Homo sapiens: one gene and its partners. The protein of the gene in region 3 purifies or fractionates together with the protein of the main gene of each other region. This does not show direct contact. Each region holds a gene or a part of one and is shown on either strand. Other genes may lie near its edges.

What was found.
Region 1: the proteins of PPP3CC (region 3) and LRRC41 purify together in Homo sapiens (affinity purification with mass spectrometry; 3 studies listed by BioGRID and IntAct, with this or other methods). This does not show direct contact.
Region 2: the proteins of PPP3CC (region 3) and ARID3B purify together in Homo sapiens (affinity purification with mass spectrometry; 2 studies listed by BioGRID and IntAct, with this or other methods). This does not show direct contact.
Region 4: the proteins of PPP3CC (region 3) and LBH purify together in Homo sapiens (affinity purification with mass spectrometry; one large-scale study listed by BioGRID and IntAct). This does not show direct contact.
Region 5: the proteins of PPP3CC (region 3) and ETV6 purify together in Homo sapiens (co-immunoprecipitation; one large-scale study listed by IntAct). This does not show direct contact.
Region 6: the proteins of PPP3CC (region 3) and DCPH1 fractionate together in Homo sapiens (co-fractionation; one large-scale study listed by BioGRID). This does not show direct contact.
Region 7: the proteins of PPP3CC (region 3) and ATOH8 purify together in Homo sapiens (pull-down; one study listed by IntAct). This does not show direct contact.

Annotation. Positions count from the first base shown.
Region 1 is NC_000001.11:46,279,617-46,283,116, reverse strand, and holds part of LRRC41 (leucine-rich repeat-containing protein 41), read left to right. Parts: intron 1-1,731; coding exon 1,732-1,992; intron 1,993-2,556; coding exon 2,557-2,721; intron 2,722-2,826; coding exon 2,827-2,925; intron 2,926-3,500. UniProt on the Homo sapiens protein: Probable substrate recognition component of an ECS (Elongin BC-CUL2/5-SOCS-box protein) E3 ubiquitin ligase complex which mediates the ubiquitination and subsequent proteasomal degradation of target proteins.
Region 2 is NC_000015.10:74,589,720-74,593,219, reverse strand, and holds part of ARID3B (AT-rich interactive domain-containing protein 3B), read right to left. Parts: exon of another isoform or gene 3,401-3,500; coding exon 3,217-3,400; exon of another isoform or gene 3,159-3,216; intron 2,765-3,158; exon of another isoform or gene 2,114-2,764; intron 2,070-2,113; coding exon 1,786-2,069; intron 1,661-1,785; coding exon 1,406-1,660; intron 86-1,405; coding exon of another isoform or gene 83-85; coding exon 1-82. UniProt on the Homo sapiens protein: Transcription factor which may be involved in neuroblastoma growth and malignant transformation. Favors nuclear targeting of ARID3A.
Region 3 is NC_000008.11:22,538,352-22,541,625, reverse strand, and holds the end of PPP3CC (serine/threonine-protein phosphatase 2B catalytic subunit gamma isoform), read right to left. Parts: intron 2,158-3,274; coding exon 2,128-2,157; intron 1,895-2,127; coding exon of another isoform or gene 1,758-1,894; exon of another isoform or gene 1,690-1,757; intron 1,012-1,689; coding exon 824-1,011; 3' UTR 501-823; downstream 1-500. UniProt on the Homo sapiens protein: Calcium-dependent, calmodulin-stimulated protein phosphatase which plays an essential role in the transduction of intracellular Ca(2+)-mediated signals. Dephosphorylates and activates transcription factor NFATC1.
Region 4 is NC_000002.12:30,255,534-30,258,030, forward strand, and holds part of LBH (protein LBH), read left to right. Parts: intron 1-1,899; coding exon 1,900-2,088; 3' UTR 2,089-2,497. UniProt on the Homo sapiens protein: Transcriptional activator which may act in mitogen-activated protein kinase signaling pathway.
Region 5 is NC_000012.12:11,873,174-11,876,673, reverse strand, and holds part of ETV6 (transcription factor ETV6), read right to left. Parts: intron 1-3,500. UniProt on the Homo sapiens protein: Transcriptional repressor; binds to the DNA sequence 5'-CCGGAAGT-3'. Plays a role in hematopoiesis and malignant transformation.
Region 6 is NC_000006.12:151,465,966-151,469,465, reverse strand, and holds part of DCPH1 (damage-control phosphatase ARMT1), read right to left. Parts: intron 1,124-3,500; coding exon 356-1,123; 3' UTR 1-355. UniProt on the Homo sapiens protein: Metal-dependent phosphatase that shows phosphatase activity against several substrates, including fructose-1-phosphate and fructose-6-phosphate.
Region 7 is NC_000002.12:85,784,991-85,788,436, forward strand, and holds part of ATOH8 (transcription factor ATOH8), read left to right. Parts: intron 1-1,894; coding exon 1,895-1,900; 3' UTR 1,901-3,446. UniProt on the Homo sapiens protein: Transcription factor that binds a palindromic (canonical) core consensus DNA sequence 5'-CANNTG- 3' known as an E-box element, possibly as a heterodimer with other bHLH proteins.

The DNA of each region.
Region 1 (3,500 bases), on a different chromosome or scaffold from region 3:
CAAACACCCTTCAATGGCTTAATTTTACTTAGTGGTCATTCATATTCTTACTCCTGGTTATCTCTATAGTTGTATCTTTTTTTTTTTTTTTTTTGACAGGGAGTCTCTGTTGTCACCCAGGCTGGAGTGCAATGGTGCAATCTTGGCTTACTGCAACCTCCGCCTCTCGGGTCCAAGCAATTCTACTGACTCAGTAGCTGGGATTACAGGCACATGCCACCATGCCCAGCTAATTTTTGTATTTTTAGTAGAGACGGGGTTTCACTATGTTGGCCAGGCTGGTCTTGGGCTCCCGACCTCAGGTGATCTGCCTACCTCAGCCTCCCAAAGTGCTGGGATTATATAGGTGTGAGCCACCACACCTGGCCTATAGTTGTATCTTGAATGCTTCCCCCCTTCACACTCTCACACCAGCCATTATGAAATTTTTTTGTTCTCCTTCAGGCCTCTACATATGCCAAGTTGCCTCTGCCACAATCATTCTTCCTAAATTTTAGCCTGTCCCCTTTATGTTCTTTAGGACTTAGCTGGAGTGCCTTTACTGATGTAAGCTGGACTAGGTACTCATCCTTTGTAATTTCATAGTACTTTATTCCCCCAGTTCCCATCGCATTATCAAGCTATGTAAGAAAAAAAAGCAATGTGCTGCTCACTAGTGTCTAGCAAAAAACTTGATATTTAGTAGGCACTGGGTAGTTGAATGAATGAACAGGAGCCTGCATAGTCCAAGGAATTATTTGCCTGTGGCATTAAGCAACCAACCTTCCTGGATCCTAGTCCATGCTGTGGGATTTGGTTATCTTTTCCTGCCCCATTCCCACCCATTGATTCTTTTAAGTATCCCAGTTGGGTCACTGTCACTCTCCATAGTTTTTAGGTGCTCCCTATTGCGTCTAGGTTAAACCATCCCTTTGCCTTTCCATAATGTGGCCTCCAGTGCCCTGCCCTCTAGAGCTGTTTCCTGAGCCTCATGTAGCCAAACAAGCAAGCGTCTCATTCATGCCTTGCACTCTCCTAGCTGTGATTTTTTTTTTTTTTTTGAGACAGTCTTGCTTTTTCACCTAAGCCGGAGTGCAGTGGCGTGATCTCAGCTCACTGCAACCTCCGTCTCCTGGGTTCAAGTGATTCTCCTGCCTCAGCCTCCCGAGTAGCTGGGACTACAGGCATGTGCCACCCAGCCCAGCTAATTTCTGTATTTTTAGTAGAGACAGGGTTTCACCATGTTGGCCAGGCTGGTCTGGAACTCCTGGCCTCAAGTGATCTGCCCACCTTGGCCTCCCAAAGTGCTGGGATTACAGGCGTGAGCCACCGCTCCCGGCTAGCTGGGACTCTTGACTATGTCTTCTCCCTCTATCCAAAACTTCCTTCCTTCAAGGCCAGTTTCTTCAGAAAACTACTCAGAACCCAGAAATCCAGAGAACTGCTACTGTCTGTGCCTGTCATTCAGCTAGTAGCCACATGCTGCCTCACCATATTGTATCTTCTCAATTTTGTGACTCTGCCCTGACTGGTGCTTCTTGTGGGCATAACCCAAAACAGCAGACCTCAGTTTGCTGGTTACCTAAGGAAAAAGCAAGACATGGATGAGTAGTTAAGACAAATGGGTTTAAATAAGCTGAGCCAAAGCCCAAGAGATTTGCTAGTAACCAAAAGTATTTGGAGTTGTATTTGAATATATTACCCCTGCTGACACTCCCACATGGTTCTGACTTAATCTCTTTCTTGCCATAGGCCTGGGCTCTAACATCTTCCGCCTGCTAGACAGCCTGCGGGCCCTGTCAGGCCAGGCTGGATGTCGCCTCCGTGCCCTGCATCTCAGTGACCTGTTCTCACCACTGCCCATCCTGGAGCTGACACGTGCTATCGTGCGAGCACTGCCCCTGCTACGGGTCCTCTCTATTCGTGTTGACCACCCAAGCCAGCGGGACAACCCTGGTGTGCCAGGGAATGCAGGGCCCCCTAGCCACATAATAGGCGATGAGGAGATACCAGGTGAAGCACTGTGTGTGTGTTTGTGTGTGTGCACGCACGTGTATCCCCACACAAAGGTGCAGATGCATTCGTATGGGGAAAGGGGAAGGACCTCTTCTATCACTCATTCCTGGCTTATCTGGAACCTATCCCCCCTTTAGAGCCTACCACTAAGATACTCTTGAGCTAGACAGGGCCTAAACCACCATAAGACCAGCAGAGAGTGACCAAGGCAGCTTGGTCTCCAGAAAAGGAAAAGAACTGATCTTTAGACTGGATTAGTTCCCCTGCTGTATGTTCCCTTAGTTCTTGTATGTCTCCTATCCCACCACTCTGCATACTTTATTTGCTTGTGTCTGGGTAGCCTGTCTTCCTGGTCTAAAATTTCTACAAGGGCAAGGACTAAATCTCATATTTAGTGCTCAATTCCTAGAATCTAGCACAGTGCTGACATATGGTAGGCACTCAACGACAAGTGAATGAATAAATAATTTTTTAGATGAATCCCTTAAGAACAGGATGGGACCTGCTATGGGAGTGAGGTAGAGATGGCCAGCTGGAATCTTCTTTCCCCACCATATCCAGAAAACTGCCTGGAGCAGTTGGAGATGGGATTTCCACGGGGAGCCCAGCCAGCCCCACTGCTGTGCTCCGTTCTGAAGGCCTCGGGTTCTCTGCAGCAGCTGTCCCTGGATAGTGCCACCTTTGCCTCTCCCCAGGATTTTGGGCTTGTTTTGCAAACACTCAAAGGTAGGACCCAGCCAGAATGGTGAAGGGAGAGGAGTAGGTGGGGACCTAGCACTGTTCTCTAGGAAAGCTAAGGTCCATGGTCCATGGTCTCTGCCTCCTATCCAGAGTACAACCTAGCCCTGAAAAGACTGAGCTTCCATGACATGAATCTCGCTGACTGTCAGAGCGAGGTGCTCTTTTTGCTACAGAATCTGACTCTGCAAGGTAAGTTCCTTATTCAGAACCTGGACATTTCCTGGGTCTTCACTATGGTTCTGCCATAATCTGAGTGAGCAAACCACTGTTCCTTTCTTGGCCTTGTGTCCTCAGCTATAAAATGGATATAGAACCTGCATGATTTTCCTTCTAAAAGCCCCAACCTCAATTCCTCCTCTACTAAACATGAGAAATCGCTCTTTTAGAGTGCTTCACCCAAAAGTTGCTCTTACCTTTCAGAGGTGGACAAAATGGTGGTGGTGGGGCAAAATAAATGTACTGTGCCAGGCTCCCCTCATAGACTTTTCTCTGATCCCCACCCCCGCATAGAGGGTGGCCAGTGTTAGGGAAAGAAGGAAGTGAATGGAGAATTGTCCATGCAGAGAACCTTCTTATAGGGAACATTTAGGTTCAGTCTTTAGTTTGGATTCTGATTTAGTTCCAGCCTTGCTTGGAGTCTAGACAAATTCCTTCCTCTTTTTGGGCCTCTATAATGTTAATACCCCTTGCTAGGGCCAACTGGGGCAGGAGGGGCAGCACCAGTCCTAATGCAGCCATCAGAATTTACTATAATTTTTCTTGAC
Region 2 (3,500 bases), on a different chromosome or scaffold from region 3:
TCGATGTCCACAGACATGTTAATGCTCCCAATGCTACTCGTGGTCAGGTTCAGTGCTGCAGCCGAGGCCTCTGCTCTGTCTTCTGCTGGGGACAGGGAGACAGTGGGCCTGGTCAAGCCTTCCACAGCACTCCTGTTGTCCTCTCTGATGCTGCCTGGCCACCCCTGGTCAAAGCCTCACGCTGTTAAAAGGCATCTATGTAACCTTCTCCTGAGTGTAGGGTATGGCAGGAGATCCCAGGCTCGCCAATCTCCTGTTGCTGGCTTTTTCCACTGACCCAGTTCATCCCCTCAACTACCTCTGCTCCCAGAGAAAAGGAATCACAGTAGGCAAGGAGGCCGGCTCCGGCCCCACCACTCTGCACTGGCACTTTCCAAGTGACGGGCAAACCCTGAACTACACTATACACCAGGCCCAGGAAATCAGAGATCAATGAGACCCAGCCCCAACTTTGAGGACCCACCTGCCCTTTCTTTCCTTTGACTCTGAGTCCCTCAGAGAGAGGAGTCTACGCCCTCAGCCCCTCCCCTCCATGACCACCCAGGCAGCTGGCGTTTGTGGAAGCCTGCAAGTGCTGGCACACACGGCCTTTGGCTGGCTCACCCCAGACTCAGAATTCTTCCCGGTGAGCTGTCTTTTCTAACAGCCCTTTGCTTTGTGCAGGAGCAGGGTACCTGGCCCTGGATGAGCTGTTACCTCCCAGTTTCCTTCTGGTCCCCAAGGGCAATGGGGTAGGAGGGGCAGCCTGGGAATATGTATAGCTCCCTTCACACCTGGCTCCTTCCCACACATCTCATTCATGTTTGCTTTGAGATAGCATCAGGACCAGAATGGGAAAGAATGTGTGTGAATGGGAAAAGGGGCGTGTGGCTTGAGGAAGAGAATGTGGGGCACCAGAACAATGTGAAGAGGAAGGGAAAGGATGTCAATTATGCTGCCAAACTTGTGTTTCCTCCTTCTGTCTATATTCCTGAGTCCCACTGTCCAGCCCGGGGCAACTTGGCCCCTCGCTGAGCCTCAGGAACATGGGGTGTCTTCCTCCCAGACCTGCAGACGGTGCCCTGCTCTTGCCTACATCCAGTGAGGTGCTGGGGTAATGGCTGGTGGGGAAACGCAGCAGCTCTCTGAAGGCCTCTGGCTCCTCCTCTGTGAATAACTGCTTTTCCCTCTTACTAGAGAACAGGGCACTGCCTGAGGCAACATGTGGTCCCCTCTACCAAACAACCTCAGCTTGGTGAACTAAGATCTCAGTGCCTCTCTTCTAGGGGCCTGGAAGGCAGAACCTGGAGGGGCCTCTTCCAGGTCAGGAGTATGTGCCTCACCACCCCTGCCCCACCAGTCCCAGGAGGCGTGAATGGGCTTGGGGTTTCCAGGAAGGGAAGGCCCGGCCCTGAGCCTGGCTCACCCCTGCCGTTGATCCTGATCTTCATGGGGAGCTGCCGTGCCATGCTGAAAAAGTTGCGCTGGAAGGCCTGCTGCACCAGGCGCTGCTCCTCCTCAGACAGCCTCGATGCCTTCTTCTCAGCAGGCTCCCCTGACTCCAGCCGCTCCCGCAGCTGCTCCAGTGCGGCGGTCCGAGTACCAGCCTGCTGGCTTGCCAAGGTCACGGGCACAGCCAGACGATTTGGCACAGGCACTGTTGTCACTGGGGCTCCATCACCTGCAAAGGAACTGGAGCTGGACCAATCCACAATTGACCCTCTTGCCCCAAAACCCCAGTCTTGAACACAGGGAACTGGCATCCCTTCCTCCCTTTCTTCCTTCTCCCCCAGGAGCCCTGCTGACCTTTCCTGAGAGTGGTTGCTGGGGATATCCGAGGGCTACTGGTATTGGTACCACTGCTGGAGCCAAGCCCAAGGATGGGAAAGCGGATCTTGGGTGGGGAGAGAAGGGCAGGGGCCCCGGCAGCGGCAGCAGCAGTAGCCGCAGCAGGTGAGTAGCCAAAGAGGGAGGAGCTGTAGCTGGGCCGCCGGCCCTCCCTGCGGTTGCCATCAATTGCTGCCTGGAGCTCGGCTGGGGAACTCAAGGCTTTCTTCTCACACTCATAGGCATACAGATACTTCATGTACCTGGAGGAAAGGAAGCAAGCAGGGAGAATAATCCAAAACAGCACCAGAGACCACCCAGTTGAGGTTGGTGGGTCTCTGGAAGCAGTCTCTGTTGGGCAGGACTCTAGGGCAAAGGATTGCAACCTTGGTATACTTGGCAGAAAAGTCTGGGATGGCCGGACACTCTGCCCCAGCCTCCTCTGACTGCCACTCAATCCTAAATAGGCTCTACTTTGAAGCACCATTCATTAGGGGAAATAAATAACATCTTAGTTGGCGTTTTCACATTTGTTTTGAAGCCCTGGGAAAAATTAGGCCCATGTTTTACAAGGGCTTTCTGACTTCTTGATCTTATAACCATTCAGAGCTGGGCTAGTCAGATAGGAGCAATTCTTCCCATTGTGCATGGGACCTAGACACTGTCATTCTTTGTGTCTTAGGTCCCAAGAAGCAGTTCTCTACCCAAGAACCTTGCCATTCTGGTTGTAGCTACAACATGCTACCTAACTGATGTCAGTTGTTCATTGCATACTCTTCACAGAACAACTTCCAGAGTGTTCCAGAAGAAAAGATTCCTCTCTGGCCCTCATTCTTCAGTGCTACTATTGGTTTCACCGCTTCCATCACCCATGTAATTAACTCAAATGCTGACAAAACCAGGTCACCAATCCAAGGGGGCCTTCCTGCCTGCCTTTCTCTGGGTCCTCTGCCGCTGGGTAAGCTGAATATCAGGTAAGAGGGGCCACTTGGGGTGGAGATGCTGTTTGGAAGACAATGTCCTGGAAGGGGCACAGGTCTTAGAGACAGAAGCCCAGGTCTGAATCTCAGCTCTACCACTTACTGGCTGGTATATGACCTTAGCCAAATTATTTAACCATGGAGACTTCATTTTTGTAATGTGGGAAATGGGGGCATACCTACTTTACAGGGTTGACTGTGAGGTTTAAATGAAATAGTAAAGTACCAGCACAGAGTAGACACTTGGTAAATGGTGGTTCTCATCACTACTTGGTTTAGTGAGGGATTCATCTCAGAAAGCTCCCCACTGTTTCGGGAATCCACTCATCTTGCTAACCATACAAAGGAATTTCCTTCCTTCCTCTCCTCTAGGTTACAACATCCCCTTTCTCCAGCCTCAGCTTCCTTCTCCCAGGCCCTGGCCACTCACTGCGTCCTGAGGGTGAAGGCGGCGCTGGTGATGGATGTGGGCAGGTTTAGGCCTTTGGTGATCTCCCTCCAGATCTTCTTGTTGATGATCTCCACCAGGCCTCCCTTCTCGGTCACCAGCTTATACAGCATGTACAGGTCCAGGATCTGTTTGGCCATGATGGGGATTCGGTTGATGGGGGTCCCTGTGGTTGTCCAACGAGAGAAAGAGACAGCGGGATCATCATCAGGCTGAGAAGAAAGATTCCGTGTATGCCCACCTTTAGCCGAGCTGGAAACAATGCT
Region 3 (3,274 bases):
ACTTCCTTTACAGAAGTCACCTGGGGTTCAAAAATGAAAGTAAAATAATCTGGCAATTGTGAAAGCTTTCTGAAAATCTTTCTCCTCCAAAGTCCTAAGGAAATTTAAACCAATCATGCCCATGGTCAGATGAACAGATTTTAAGTAAATCTAAGAACATCCCTTATTATTTTTTATTTTGTTTACTAGAACATATTTAAACGAACTGAGAGTCCAGAGAAAGTAGGTTATTATAGAAAACATTTCCCTTCGCCCTTAAAATCACTGGATTTGGGTTATTCACTTTGAAGTTCTACTATGATCCAGTTTCCCATCAAAAGGGAAGCACTTTTAGCCACTGAAATCTAAGAGGACTTTCTTCAATGGCACCCAGCAGAAAAGGAAAAAAATGAAAAGGAAAAAAATCTTCTTGCATTTGAAACGTTATTAGTCTTACATGAAAGACATTACCTTCCAAAAAACAATAATGAAGACTGACTAGTTCAAGTCAGAAACCCAGGTTTGAGGTTTCCAAGGCCCTTTTATTAGGGGAAGTTCCCCTTTATAGCACAAGACTTCACAAATGTGTTGACAACAATCAGATTCATTTCTTAAAATTATGGAGAAAAAAGGGAAAAACAAAACAGATGCACTTTTTATATATATTGAACATAAATTAAAAGAATTTATAAAACAGCCACCTTTTTACAGAATAAATGCAGACTGAATTATAAATGCACCTCCACGTTGAAGTTGTTTTGAGTTGCTTTTCATTTTCCAATAATAAATAAATAGAATTTGTTCTTGAGTTTTAGATCCACCTGAGCCACGGCAGGACTCTAAGTCATGAATGGGCTTTCTTCCCTTGGTCGCTCCTGTGCGCAGCATGTGAGTGTGCTGAGGTTACAGATTTCATTGGCCCACCAGCGTGTATGCTATCCTTTCGGGGTGGCATTCGCTCATTAATTCGGTCCAGACCTCGCGCTTCTTCAAAACTCCGGATCTTGTGCTGAAGCGAGAACCCTCTGATGGCTACAGAAAAACAGGAAGCAGGTGGAGAGAGCTCAATTAGGCAGCAAAGCAACAGGCTTAAAAAAAGTTTCTTAGCACACAGCAACCTCCTAGAGAAACACACAGAAAGGTGGCTATGGAGCACACGTCTAGTGAAAGTCATGGGCAATGTCTGACTGAATCAGTCTTGGCTGCAGCTACTGCTTCCTTAAAGCCCAAAGGGCAGCTGAAATTGTGAAAGTAATTTTCATAAAAGCTCTATATGCATAATCATGGTAGACATATACCTAACAAAAAGCTAACAAGTACTTACTGGGCCCCAGTACCTTTAAGAAAGAGTGTCTTATGCACCAGAAACATACTCAATGCTAGAACAAAGGCAACACTAGAATAATTGAACAAGTTAAACCCAGGGTAGTTGCTTTTCGCACAAAGGCCACATAGACCACAAAAAAAAGTAACAAAAGAGCTAATCTTTTCGTTTAGGACAGCTTTCTATCTTGCACAACCAGGAGCTGTACATAAGTTAAAAACTTAAAAATAGCTTCTACATATTTTCCTTCCGATTCAACTTTTATAACACCAAGTTAAGGCATTCGCGTTTTGAACCATCTTACCTAATAAAACAATTACAAGTATAATACAAGTTTATCAGTTCCAATGGTTTTCATAGAAACAAAGTTAATTTAACTTGCCTACCTTAGGGCAACCTCAGAAATGAATTGAACTAAATTCCAGTCTACTTCTGCCTCTGCTCTTGAAATCTTTTAGAATCGCTGAAGAGGCTGACCTATTTGGCTCTCTTGAGAATCAAATGGATGTCTCTTGTACATGGAAGGGATACAGAAGTAAACCACTTGACCTCTCATGACCAGTTGCTTAAGCTTCTGCCGTTGCATTAAAGCTGATAGAGCCCAGAAAAAAAACTGTAGCTGTGGTGAAGGTTATTTAAAATTAATGCAAAGATAGGACACAAAGGAAACACCTGCTTCGTTAACATGCCTAGAAACAACTATACCTTTTCTCACTGTTATAGTTCTGGTGATGCAATAATAAAATATTTGAAATGTTGATAAAGCTTCGAAAAACCAGTACACAGACACATGGATCACATCTATCAGAGTAATATGGCCATACCTTCCCGGGCCTCTACCGCTTCTACTGTGGCTGTAAGAGGGCAGGAGCAGTAGCATGCAAAAACGAAGACAGAAAAAGAGTGAGTAAACCAACAGCACTGATGGCAGCACAGCCATCCCAGGGGCCCGTTTTTTAGCCTATCCCCATCCATAATGAAAGTCAACTAGTTAGAGAAGCGAGAAGATTATTGCGAGAGACTCAATTGGGGTGGGAGGAATATGGGGTGGGGGAGAGTTTCTAATATTTTTAACATTTCAGGTGCCATGGAACATTGCTCTTTTCATTTTAGGTAGCCAACTGCTACTTTATATCTTGATATCCACGTATCGAAACAACATGTAGAATCAAATAGTTTGACATCACAACAATCCTTAGTTTGTAAAATATCTCAGGTGATATTAAATGAGCTACTGCTGGGTCCTATTCAAAAAGCTTATTTACAACTACATCTTACTGCTCTCAAGTGACTTATTTGGAGTCCAACTGCCCTATTAATTACTTCATTTAAAAAAAAAAGAGTGGCCTTTGAACAGCAGACTGGCATTTGGAAGGAGAGAAAAATAGGTTCCATGTGAAGGGTTATTTCTTGTCCAGGAGTGGAGTACAAAGCTAACAAAAGCATAGAACTATTGAATTCCTAATGCAAATGTGTGTACCCATCTGCTATAAAAATATAGCAGAGGCTAATGTTTCCAATCCATATGGCTTCCATACAGTGTTCAAGAGAGTTGGCCAGTAACTAAGAAAGCCCTCTTCTTTCTTAGCAATGGAAAAGGAAGCAACTTAAAAATTAGTACCAACAGGTAAACTTCCTTGCATCTCCTTTCTCAGACAGTAAAAACGCTAATATATGAAAAGGTACAGGGTGCCACAAGAAAGATCCTATTAGGAGAACCCTGTCAGTTACTCCAGTACCAATTTGCCAAAAGAAGGCAGTGAAGAATAATGAGCAGTAACAGTTTGCTGCTATTCCCAAGGCTTTATATATCAATATGAGAAGAGAAACTGAAAGAACTACATTAACTACCTAATGGAATGTGAAAAATGGATAACTGAAATCTACTTATGAAGTGCTTTCATTTGTCAACCATAGGCAGGCATGTATTAAATCACTGTCACACCCTCTCTAATCTCCTTAAGTAGAACA
Region 4 (2,497 bases), on a different chromosome or scaffold from region 3:
TCCCCAGCAATAGGTCTTATTGGATAAATGGTTAATAATCACTCGTTTGCAGGTATTGGGAAGGCTTCACTGAGGCCTGTGATTCCTGGAAGCCCCACGTGGCCTGTGATGTGGTGAGAGTGTGACTTGGCTGGGGCAGCACTGCATGGGGTTGGGTTGCAATAAGACCGGGTATCCTCAGAGCACCACAGAAGTTGGGAAGGCCTGAGTTTGTAAAAGGGCCTTTCTTCTATGTCCTGGTAATGGGTGACTCCTGTCTGCTGCCGTGGGCCTGTCCCCATCTGGATCAAGGTGCAGGCAGGACCAGGCAGCCCCCCAGATCTCTTCAAATGTGTCTCCACCCACTCAAAGTTTTGCTTTCCTTTCTTGTGCCATGAACAAGCTGTGTGACCTTAGGCAGGTCTCCTGACCCCTCTGGGGCCTTGAGTTGCTCATCTACCAAATGGAGAGGTGGGAAGAGATGGCCATGAAGGTGCCAAGTGCCTGATTCTGGGAGCCCAGCATCCCAGACAGAGGCTTCTCTCTCTAGCTCTGGGGTGTGTCACTGAGGGCTGTGAATGGCAGGGACCAGCAGCCCAGCGGATTAAGTACTTAAACTGCTGGGCCAAGAATTGGGTCAGCTGTAGTCACAGGGCAGTGTATGCAAAGGGAATCCGCAGAGCCAGATTTGGCCCTGATTTTATAGCTGGGTTTGGAGTTTCTGCCAGCTCTGGGCAGGACACAAAGTAGGCATTAAAAAACAAAGCCTGGCTGACGGGACTCTGGAAAAAGAAGTAGACTCCTTCAGGTGTAGAGCTGGCAAGAAGCCAGGAACTGTTCACAGGTGAAAAAGGATCCTTGGATTTTGTTCCCAGCCTGCCTGTGACTGGGGACCATGCCGTTCATCAGGATTTGGCTTTGACTTTACAGTTGCAATGGGATGAGGACCCATCTGCTTGAGGGACAAGCTGGTGTTGGGGCAGGGGAATCGAACATATCCAGTTTTTGTTTTTTTTTATTTTCAAGATGGAGTCTCGCTCTGTCGCCCAGACTGGAGTCCAGTGGCGTGATCTCGGCTCACCACAAGCTCCGCCTCCCGGGTTCACACCATTTTCTGCCTCAGTCTCCGGAGTAGCTGGGAATACAGGCGCCCACCACCATGCCCGCCTAATTTTTTTTGTATTTTTAGTAGTTTACCATATGAGAGGTTTCACCATGTTAGCCAGGATGGTCTCGATCTCCTGACCTCGTGATCCACCTGCCTCAGCATCCGAAAGCACTGGGATTACAGGTGTGAGCCACCAGGCCCAGCCCAGACCCAGTTTTCAATCTCATCCCATCCCTCACTCATTTCTAGGCTGTCTGGTCTTGGACCACCTACTCTCCCAAGCCTGAGATTCTTTAAGCTAGCATTAGCAACACCTGTTTTTCAGCATGACTGTGTGGGTTGGAAGTGATATATGTATAGCACCTGGTAACCTGCTCACTTAGTGCCAATAATTATTCCGGGAGGTACTTAATGCTGTGGCACCTGTTGTATTCTTTGTACTGCTGGAGTAAAATACTTCCTGCAGAGAGAGACCAGACTTACTGTGGATAACATGATTTGGGATGATTTTATCTGCAAATAAAATACAGAATCCAAACAGAATCACATCAACCTTTAAACTCAGCGGCACTGCCCCCAAACTTTCAGCTTCAGGATTGGAATGGAAGTCTGACTGAGGGACAGTTTCCTATGTTGCCCCAGAATATTCTCCCGTGGCTCCCACCTTATATACTCCACAGCCTCCCGAGTGCAAAGCACAGTCCCTGGCCTATGGCATGCACCCAGTATGCCACATGGATGTGCAAAGAAGGAATGGAATTTCTCTTTTCAAATATCTACGTGACCAGGCACCTGCTCTGCTTTTCTTTCAGATCTTCCCAGACCCGTCAGATTTTGACCGCTGCTGCAAACTGAAGGACCGTCTGCCCTCCATAGTGGTGGAACCCACAGAAGGGGAGGTGGAGAGCGGGGAGCTCCGGTGGCCCCCTGAGGAGTTCCTGGTCCAGGAGGATGAGCAAGATAACTGCGAAGAGACAGCGAAAGAAAATAAAGAGCAGTAGAGTCCCTGTGGACTCCCATGGGTCATACCAGCCAGCATCTGTTCCTGAACTGTGTTTTTCCCATCATGACGGAAGAAGAGAGTGAGCCGCAATTGTTCTGAAAATGTCAAACGAGGCTTCTGTTTTGCACCTGCAGATCACCGAGTTGGTTTTCTTTTCTTTTCTTGCCTTTTTTTTTTTTTGAAATTTGCCGAGCAGTGGAGCCCTCTGACAATTTGCAAGGCCCTCTGAGAAAGGAAGCTGCTTAGAGCCAGGGGGTTAGTGGGTGAGGGGAGCGAGTGCTGTTTTTGAGATCATTATCTGAACTCAGGCAGCCTAGTAGAGGCAGTGGTGGGATTCCAATGGGTCTTGGTGGGTGGGAGGTGGGGCATGTGCAAAGCAAGCAAGGAACATTTGGGGTAAGAAAACA
Region 5 (3,500 bases), on a different chromosome or scaffold from region 3:
AGATTTAGGTCCCCACTTTTGGGTAGCAAATGAGGGGTTATGAAATGAATGGATTATAAAACAATTGTCAGTGTACCAACGAATCTTCTTCCTCAGCAGAGTTTTGGATTAAGGCCAAGGAAGAGACAGGCAGACAGGAAATCTGGTGGCTCAGGTTTTAACGGAATTAAAGTACTTTAAGAGAAAACTAAACTGACTGAAAAGTGTTCGTTTAAGATTTAGCTGTCTATAGTTAAAGCAGGAGCTTAGTTTGTGTCATGGCATAAAGCAAGAGGACATTGCCTTCCACCAGCAAGGATACGAAATTTGGCATTTAGAGATGCAGTGCCCTATCATCTAGAACAATGCCTGGCACATGAGCAGACTGGCAATAATTTTTGAATCAATGAATGAAGAACTGTATAATCCAAAGTGCAAATAAATCGTTTCTTTTACGTAGCTAAATACTTAGTATTTTATTTATGTTAATGATATTATCGTAACTATTCTGGTTGGTCTGAAAATATAGCCTGCAGTCCAGAACCTGTCTCCTCTCTTACATAACTTGTTATTGTTCCTTTCACATGTCTCAAACATGCCTTGTCATCTAAAGTGCAAATAATTCCTTGGGAGCAAGGGCACTGTTTTCTAAGTCTGCATCCTACATTGCACCTATGATTCCAAGCACACTGACCACCACGTACACAATGTTGCAAGGCAGAGAGCATCAAACGTTTTCTGTAAAGGGCCAACTAATAAATGTTTTAGGTGTTGCTGGCCATGCAATCTCTGTTGTAACTACTCAACTCTGCCACTGCAGCATGGAAGCAGACATAGGCAATACCAAATAAATGGGTTTGGCTGTTTTCCAGGAAAACTTGATTTAAAAAAAACGCATGGTGGCTGGATTTGGCTCACACTTTGGGCCACAGTTTTCAATCTTTGCTCTAGAGTCCCAGACCAGAAGGAAACAATAATTTTGGGAAAAACACTGAACAGAAGCTCGAGGCTAGACTCTTGATGTGTCTCAATCTCAGTTCCTTCACCTGTAAAAGGCCCTTCTACCTTTGAAATCAAGTCCAAATAAGGAATTTCAATACATACTGAAAACATGACTCACGGATGACTACAGTCACACCTCAGCCACCTACAGGTGCTTGTGGCCAATATACTTTCTGGCTTTGAAACACACTGGTGGGACACAAGCCAGTAAAACTTTTGTAGGTAAAGTTTTAGAAGATTGACAGATGCTTTCTGCTAGGCTCCTTGCTCCTAAATAGCCCATTCTTAAAGATACCAAGTAGAAAACAAGCACAGAAAGAGGCAACTTTTTCACTATTCCATACAGCGTTGGCTGCTGGATTCAAAATAAGACCCCAGCAATCTTGTCTCACTCCGTCTTGTGCTAAACTCTCTCCCATAAACACTAGCCATTCCAACCTGGTAAATTCTTAATAACAGTTCTCCTTATCCTTTGCAAAGTAAGTGACACCTTTAAAAATAAGCTACTTGTTATATTTAAAAAGATGTCATTTGTGATTTGTATTTAAACTGTCAACCACCTACTGAATTTCCTTTCTTGATTATTTTAGTTTTTCCATATGGTAAATACCTAACAGACATAAATTTGCATGTATCTTTTTTTTTTAATTATACTTTAAGTTTTAGGGTACATGTGCACAATGTGCAGGTTTGTTACATATGTATACATGTGCCATGTTGGTGTGCTGCACCCATTAACTCGTCATTTACATTAGGTATATCTCCTAATGCTATCCCTCCCCCCTCCCCCGACCCCATAACAGGACCCGGTGTGTGATGTTCCCCTTCCTGTGTCCATGTGTTCTCATTGTTCAATTCCCACCTATGAGTGAGAACAATTCTGCATGTATCTTAATGGTATGATGGAATTTCAGTGATAATAGATAATGAAAAGAATTTATGAAAAATTTCATATATATATACACATATATATACACATATACATATATACATATATACACACATATACATATATACACACATATATACATATACACACATATGTGTATATACACACACACATACACATATGTGTGTACACACGCACATACACATATATGTGTATACACACATATATGTGTACACACGCACATACACATATATGTGTGTACACACGCACATACACATATATGTGTGTACACACGCACATACACATATGTGTGTACACACGCACATACACGTGTGTGTGTATATATACATACGCATATATATATACATATATGTGTGTGTATATATATACACACATATATATATACACACACATTTTTTTTTTTTTTGAGACAGAGTATCACTCTGTTGCCCAGGCTGGAGTGCAGTGGCATAATCTTGGCTCATTACAACCTCCACCTTCCAGGTTCAAGCGATTCTCCCACCTCAGCCTCCTCGGTAGCTGGGACTACAGGTGTGCACCACCATGCCCGACGAATTTTTGTATTTTTTGATAGAGATGGGGTTTCACCATGTTGGCCAGGCTGGTCTCGAAATCCTGACCTCAGGTGATCTGCCAGCCTTGGCCTTCCAAAGTACTGGGATTACAGGCGTGAGCCACAGTACCCAGCCTGAAAAATGATAGATTTTTAAATGACCTCAATAGATCTCAACTTGTAGATTTACATTTCTACCTGAAATAGAAAAAATACACCGAGCCTTATCTTGCTTTGCTCCTGGTAAGTTTTCTCCATCTGGAATGACCTGTTTTTCTCTAATCTCCACTTGTCCACATTCTAAGCATTCATCCAAGCCCAGCTAAAAGCCAGCCCTCCATGTAGCTTGCCCTGACATCCCTACTCTGACCTCCTGTGGTACTTAACAGGAGCCCTTCTAAGATACATGTCATGTGCTTCGCTTTTATAGTTAACTGTGCTCAGCTCTTTCATGATAAAGACTGTGTCTTATACCTCTCTGAGGCTGTCCCCACCCCATCAAGAATGCAGAACAGTGCCTTATACACAGAAGGTGTCCAAATGCATAAATTCTAGGGCACCTGAACAAATCATATCTGAATAGTAAGAATTTAGCTTCATTTTGTGATCCACATTCATGAGTACTATTTCCATCTATACCCTCCAGCTATAGTACTCATCAGTTTGACATTCAGCAGCACCTTCATTTCTTTTTGTGCTGTGCTCATTTGAAAAGCTTTAAGGAACTAAGTTTTCTCATCTAACAGCTGCTTTACGGAGATTTAAAGGCTTTTTATGGCTATTCAGTTAATGACAGAACTTTTACGTTGTACACAGGAATCACCCAATGAATTTCACCTCCAATAAACAGAATCAATTTTACAAGGATCGAGGAGTCCAGAAAGACATCAGAAGAGTGGAGTACACACAGGGGTATCCTCAAAGAAACAAAGGTGCTTAAAACTCTTGTGTTTTCTTGGGAGGGTTACAGAATCAAGACTGTCAGACTACAGACTGGCAGAGCTGGAAGGAACTTTAGGGATGATTCAGTCCTACCTTCTTCGGAGAAAAACAATG
Region 6 (3,500 bases), on a different chromosome or scaffold from region 3:
AGAACAAGGTTAACTAACTAAAAGCAGAACTCACTTATTTTTTGCTCCCTAGCCAATTAAAAATAAGTTCATTAAAAGCACTTGAAATTATATATTTAACCTGAAAAAAAGTTGCTAAAATTCCAATATAAATGTAAATATCTTTAACTTGCTTAACCCAGCTATCCCCAAAACAGTGTAGTGGGGCAAAATGTTCAAAAGAAAAATCATCCAGTGCACGTAGATGGGCACCAAGAAGCTAAGCTTCCCTGAGCGCGTACAGAGCCGCCAGGCGACTCAATTCACGTGCTCCTTTTCTGGGGATGAAAAGGTGCTCACCAGATCTTTCTATGCAACTGAGAGCTCCTAAATCAAGTCAAAGGGGACCATCGTACTGAAATATTCCATATTTTCCAGTGGTCCACCAGCTGGGCTCAGAGGCCAGGAGCTGTTCCCCTTGCCCAGGCTGCAGACCAACCTGAATTTCAGCTTTTAATGTTCTTATGGTACAGAGTGGTGCAGGATGGAAGCCATTCAGAGCCTGATGAAATGGAACAGAAAACTCCCATTTTCTGTCACCTGTCAACTTCCTGTAATTCAAATCACCCTTGAATAAAATTAAATGTGCCTTCTGTAGTTCAGCATATAAGTCAGGTGCAACCTGAGGCATTGCACAGTACTCATGAGGCAGAGTCCAAAATATATGATTGTGGTAAACCCATTTACCCATTTTAATATACTCTTCCCAGTCAGCCCCACACTTGGACATCCACTTATGATTACTGTGTTTTACCTGTTCAATTAACCAATTAAAATCATGTATAGTAGTATCAGAAACAAACCATGGAATTGTTTTTCCATAAAAATGAACCTCAGTAGCCAGTTCAGAGGACAACAAGAAGTCGGCTAATATTAAATCTGTAACAAGCTCAAATCCAGAATTATCGAGAACAATATACACTCTAGTAGCAGAAGCTTTTTCTCTTGTTTTCTTGCAATTGCTAAGCAATGACCAAAGATGTTCCATATCATTCAATAAAATGAAAGGTTTTAGGTCTTCCAATGAATTTAGTACATTGGTATTCTGAGAACTACTTTCTCCACCTGAGAGAGACAGATCACACTTATTTCCCCACAGTGAAATCTGAAAAAGAAAAAGTACAAAATATTCACCCTTCTTCTGAATAGCCAACAAAACTCCATTATGTAGCGGGATGGGGGGACATTGCTAAAAAACTACTAAATATCTACAAAACTCTTTACATGACCATCAAATCTATACTTTCTCTAACAATGCACAAAAATTATTTCACATGATGCTGTATTAACAAGATAAAACTGAAATTTTTAATTCATCAGTATGTAATGGACTTAAAAAAACTGGTTTCAATTATTTCAGCACTCACATTGTTTATTCAGAATAAAAGTTTTTGCAGCTTGCAGATATTAGAACATCATCGGATGTGTGAAGAGAGGCTCAAAGTTGCCCATATAATCCAGAGTCAAGAGAAGAAATAAAAGTTTATTTTTTCCTCCTTGGCCCTGCAGAACTGTCCAGTTTCTTTCACTAATTGCATAACCTTAGGACGTGACACCTCTCTGGGATTTGGTTCTCTCATTTGTAAAATTTAAAAAACTGAACAAAGTGATATCTAAAGACGCTACTTTTTAAACAAGGTCATGTTAACTAAAGACCCATTGTAATCAATTATCTTATTCAGCTTTAAATTGAATTAATACTCAATTACATTTTGTAGAAAAACAGTATGTAGGCCTATTTTTTTTTAAGCCATAAAATTACACGTTTAGGACTTCCAGCTCGACCTGGGTTCAAACTCAGCATCTTCAGTTTATGATCATCAACAAATTACTTAAGCTCTCTAAGGCTCAAGTCCTGCAACTGAAAAACGAGATACTAGTACTTACCTCACAGAATTATTGTGAGAATTGATATAATGCATGTAAATAATGTACCAAATACCTGGCATATAGAAGTACTCAATAAACACTAGCCAAAACAGACTCTACTCTCATTTGTGATTTTTTTTTTAATAAAGATGGGGTCTCACTATGTTGACCAGGCTAATTTCCATCTCCTGGCCTCCAGCAATCCTCCTGCCGTGGCCTCCCAAAATGCTGAGATTATAAGCATGAGCCACCTTGTCAGGCCCTCATTTGTGATTTAAAATAAGGAGAATGCATGTTCCAACCAATAGGGTTTTGTTTTTTTTTTTTTTGAGATAGAGTCTCCTCTGTCACCGAGGCTGGAGTGCGGTGGTGCGATCTTGGCTCACTGCACCTCTGCCTCACGGGTTCAAGCTTTTCTCCTGCCTCAGCCTCCCAAGTAGCTGGGATTACAGCCGCCCACCACCACGCCTGGCTAATTTTTTGTATTTTTAGTAGAGATGGGGTTTTACCATGTTAGCCAGGCTGGTCTCAAACTCCTGGCCTCAGGTGATCTGCCCACCTCGGCCTCCCAGAGTGCTGGGATTACAGGTGTGAGCCACCATGCCCGGCCGAACAGTATTATTTTAAAAAGAGATAAATGAATAAATTTTTTTTAAAAAAAAGGCTTAAATAATAACTAAAGTGTCCAAGGTCACCTTTTTCTAGAGTTTCCTGAAGAAATTCATACAATGGTGTCCACGATGGCCTTCAGCGACTGAGAGCAGGTTCTGTGCTAGCCTCCTGCACTTTCCCTTCACACCGTCTTCCAGTTTGTAATGGCATAGCTCTTTGTGCAATTACTTCATTGTCTATATTCCCTCAAGATTACAAGTTTTGATAGGGAGGATCAGCCTGTTCTTGTTTTACCACTACGTGCCCAGCACCTAGAATGGCATTTGACACAGTAGCCCCAGAAATGTGTGTGTCGACAGTGGGAGAGTGCTATGACTTTTGAAAGAGATCAACATTCTCTGAAAACGAGAATGTTTTCAAGCTTCCCTTGAAACGTTAACCTGTTGCTCACTGCGGACACCAAATGGAGGCAACTCTGGCCCCCTTCACTTGGGAGCACAGTGACAGTGTGAAGAAGTTGTTAGCTAAATCAGATGACAGAAAATAGATGCATGCTCATTCTTCTTCATAGTTTATTATACTATGGGACAAAGAACACATTCAAAGAAGATGATTCCCTGAAAGAATGGGCTAGCTAGGAGTCAAGAACTAGCATGCCAGTCTTTTTTTTTTTAATTCCAAGGCTAAGCATAAGGCAGAGTTAACAGGAAAAAACAAAAAACAAGGTTTATTAGTTAACAATGTCCTGGGCCAGGCAAGGTGGCTCATGCCTATAATCCCAGCACTTTGGGAGGCCAAGGTGGGCAGATCACCTGAGGTCAGGAGTTCAAGACCAGCCTGGCCAACATGGCGAAACCCAGTCTCTACTAAAAATACAAAAATTAGCCAGGTGTGGTGGCATACGCCTGTAATTCCAGCTACTCAGGAGGCTGAGGCAGGAGAATTGCTTAAACCCGGGAGACGGAGGTTGCAGTGAGCTGAGATCGTGCCACTGCACTACA
Region 7 (3,446 bases), on a different chromosome or scaffold from region 3:
AGGCCTTGGTGAGAGAAACCCCTGTCTCCTTTAATCCTGGATGGTAGCTGTGGCTTCAGCGGGGACTAAGAGCCAACAGACGGCTTGGGGCTGGCCCCAGGCTGCCCTGACCGCCTTTACAGCATGCCCAGGAGGACGGCTCCAGCCAACCCAGCCTCCCCTTCTTCCTCAGGCCACGGGCAGGCTGAACAAGAGAAAAACCTTTTCTGCCCATGGCAGGGCCCGCCCAGGCAGCCAGCGCCGGGATGACGCGAGCTGTAAATCACCCCGTGGACCACAGACCCAGTGCCATCCCCACGGGTTTCCTTTCCGCTTCTTAATCCTCCTCCTCAGACTCGGTAACACAAAGCAGATTCCTGCTGGGGCCAGCCATGCACAGTGGGCTTGGAGAATGTGAGCCTGGGATTTACCACATCAAGATGCTCCCGCCTCTCACTTTTCCTTTTCTCCCTCCTGAGCCACTATTAGCTGGAGAGCACTCCCTCCCTCTGGCCCGGCTCCCTCGCCCTCCTTGGACCCCACTTCAGCCTTGCCCCAGACTTGCGTCTTGGCTGGCTGCCCCGGCCCACGGGGCTCACCAGGGCCTGTGGTTAGCAGGCCCTCCACGTCGTGGTTTGGCTCCATCCTGGCTCCCCAAGCCTCTGTCTCAGTGAGAGCAGCCTCTGTGTGGTAGAATGAACACTGCCGATCTGGATTCAAATCCTGGCACTGGCAACTTCTAGCACTTCCTTCTCGGAGCCTGGGATTGCTCACTCATGAGAGGGGGGAATGGGAATGCTCCCTGGCAGGTCGGAGGTGCCTGACAGATGTTTTGCTTTAAAAATAACTACTTATTAATAGCTGTTGGTTGAGGGTTGGAGCACGAATCAAAAGGGTGTTTGGAGTTGCTTTAAGAGGGTTATGTTGTACCAGGTTCAGGGACTTTGTTATTTTTCATCCTGGGTGGATCTGGAGGTCTCACAGAGCCTCCCCACCGGCTCTGACCTCCCCAGAGAGCTAAAACCCCACAGGCCCCATGACCTTGCCCCCTGTCCCATCCCTTCCTGGTAGCCAGTTACACCGTCTGCTCAGAGCGCCAAGTTCAGCTGCCAGAATGAGGATTGCACAGATCAGGGCTGCAGGGAACTTAAAGGTGGTCTAACCCAGCAATTTTCGAACTGTGCTCCTTAGCACCCTGATTCTCAGACATGTCCCAGGCTCTCTGTTGGAAGGAATGCAATAGGTCTCTGGGTCCCCCTTCCTCTGTGTCCCCTGACTCCACTGCAATCAAATAGACAGACACATGTTTTCTGTGTTAGTGTTCCATGTACTTCATTCTCCTGCTTAAAAGGAGCTTTCATCGATCTGCTCCAGCCACGCCATTTTACAGATGAGGACACTGAGGCCTAGAGAAGTCAAATGACTTGTTTTAGGTCACCCAGCTGGCAGGTGAATGTGCTACAACTAGAGTGGGCCTTGTGACTCCTAGGGCAGCGCAAGGAAGCTGCAGATGGCCATTCCAGTGGGACTGAGCCTGCAGAGGAGCCTGCCACCCCAGGGTGGGGACGGGCCTCTGAGATCCCTCAGAGGGGTGGCCCTGGGGATTGTGGTGTCAGCCCCAGGTGTCCCCGAGCTTCCAGCGGCCCTGGCTCCCACTACCCACTGTGGTCCTCTTCTTTCCCCAAACCAACCAAAACGCAGGGCCTCTGAAATGCAGCACTAAGGAACAGGGGGACAGTGTGGGCTCTGGAGGCAGCCAGGCCGGGGTTTGAATCCTGGCTCTTCCACTTATCGAACCCTTCAAGGTGGGGGCCCCTCTGCCTGGAGGACTCAGTGAAGGGACATTCTGCAGCTGTCCAGAAACAGGAACCAGGTGGAGCAGGGGCAGCTTTTAATGGCTGGTCATGTCTTTCAGGAGTGACTGGCTGCAGGCAAGACCAAGGCCACCACTGTGGGCCCTCCTTCCAGTCAGGCCTGAGGACAAGGTGAGCTCGCTGAGTCCAGCCTCGTGGTCTTCTCCAAGATGCCGCCAGATGCCCAGCCTACAGCCTCTCAGGGTCGGATCGGAGCACGCCTGCCTCCCTCTCCCCTCCGCCCTCACCCAGCCAATCCGAGGCTGCTTCGCACTTTGCCCTCTGCCTGGTGGGGAGGGGAGAGCTCAGCCCCCGACTCACTCAGACCCCAAGGCCCACTGTCCAGCTGCAGAAATTCGTTGCCAAAGATTGGACAGAGACACCGAAGGAAATGGGGTGGTGAAACCCCACAGCGAAAAGCCACACCGTTGCTCTGTGACTTTTGCTCCTCCTGTTGCCTGAGCCCCATCTCAAGCCAAAGATGAGTCAGTGGTTCTGCTAGGAACTCATGGAATGGATGGGCATTTGATGACCCCTGGGGGTCATCTTGGCCCTCTGACCTGGTGCTCTCTCTCCACTGGGCCTTGTGCTGGCTGAGTGCAAGACAAGCCTTAGGGGCTGTGAGAGGGAGGCTGGGGTGCCTGGGCGGGGCTGGGAGTGGGACCTGAGATCCCTGCCCACTCTCTCCCCTTCATTGGCTGCCCAGGCCACTGGCCCCAGTTCTCAGTGTCCCTTGGGTCCAGGCTCCTTGGGCCCTAAGCATCACCAGAAGGGAGTAAGCAGGGAGAGAAGCAATATTACTCCCTCCCCTACACCAGGGACTTGCCCCAGGGCAGCTACCTATGGGTCTTTGCTTCCCCAGCCAGCCTCTCCTCACTGTGACCCACCCCCATGGGCCCCCGTCCCAGGCAGCCAGCACCATGGGCAGGCCCTGCCATGGACAGAAAAAGAGTTTTTCTCTTGTTCAGCCTGCACGTGGCCTGAGGAAGGAGTAGAGGCTGGGTTGGCTGGAGCCGTCCTACTGGGCAAGATGGCGCCCCACTTGGAGGGCGGTGGTCTGTTACAGGGTGTGCAGGGGCAGAGAAGGAAGGGACCAGGGGACTGGGCCAGTATGTGGAGGATGGGGCCTGCGTGTTCAAAGCCAAGGCCCGCCCCTTCCTTGTGCTCAAATGGCCAAAGCTGTTCACGTCTGTGCTCAACCATCTGCTTCAAATTGAAGTAAAAGCCCCAAAATGTCAAGAAAATACTTGTGTTGAGTGGACTCTGTGGGTGACCAGGACTTTGGCCGGTCATCAGCTGGGGAGTGTGAGGGAGGGGGTTGGTTTCTACCTACAGGTTGAGAGCCCTTCAGGATCAGGCGCTGTCCGAGTGAGAGTGTGTGTGTCTGTGTGTGGAAGGGGGTGGAGGGCGGTTCCCACAGTAGTCTCAGCCTGGACTAGTGACCAGGAGGCCTGGTCAGGAACACATGAGGAGCCCTCTCTGTCCGCACTGCACTCAATCTGTACCATGGATTTATGAGATAGGGGCCCCTATTATTAACCCCGTTTCACAGATGGGGTAACTGAGGCCTCAAGTAGACAGGGTCAGTCGGTGACAGAGCCAGTCATCGAATCA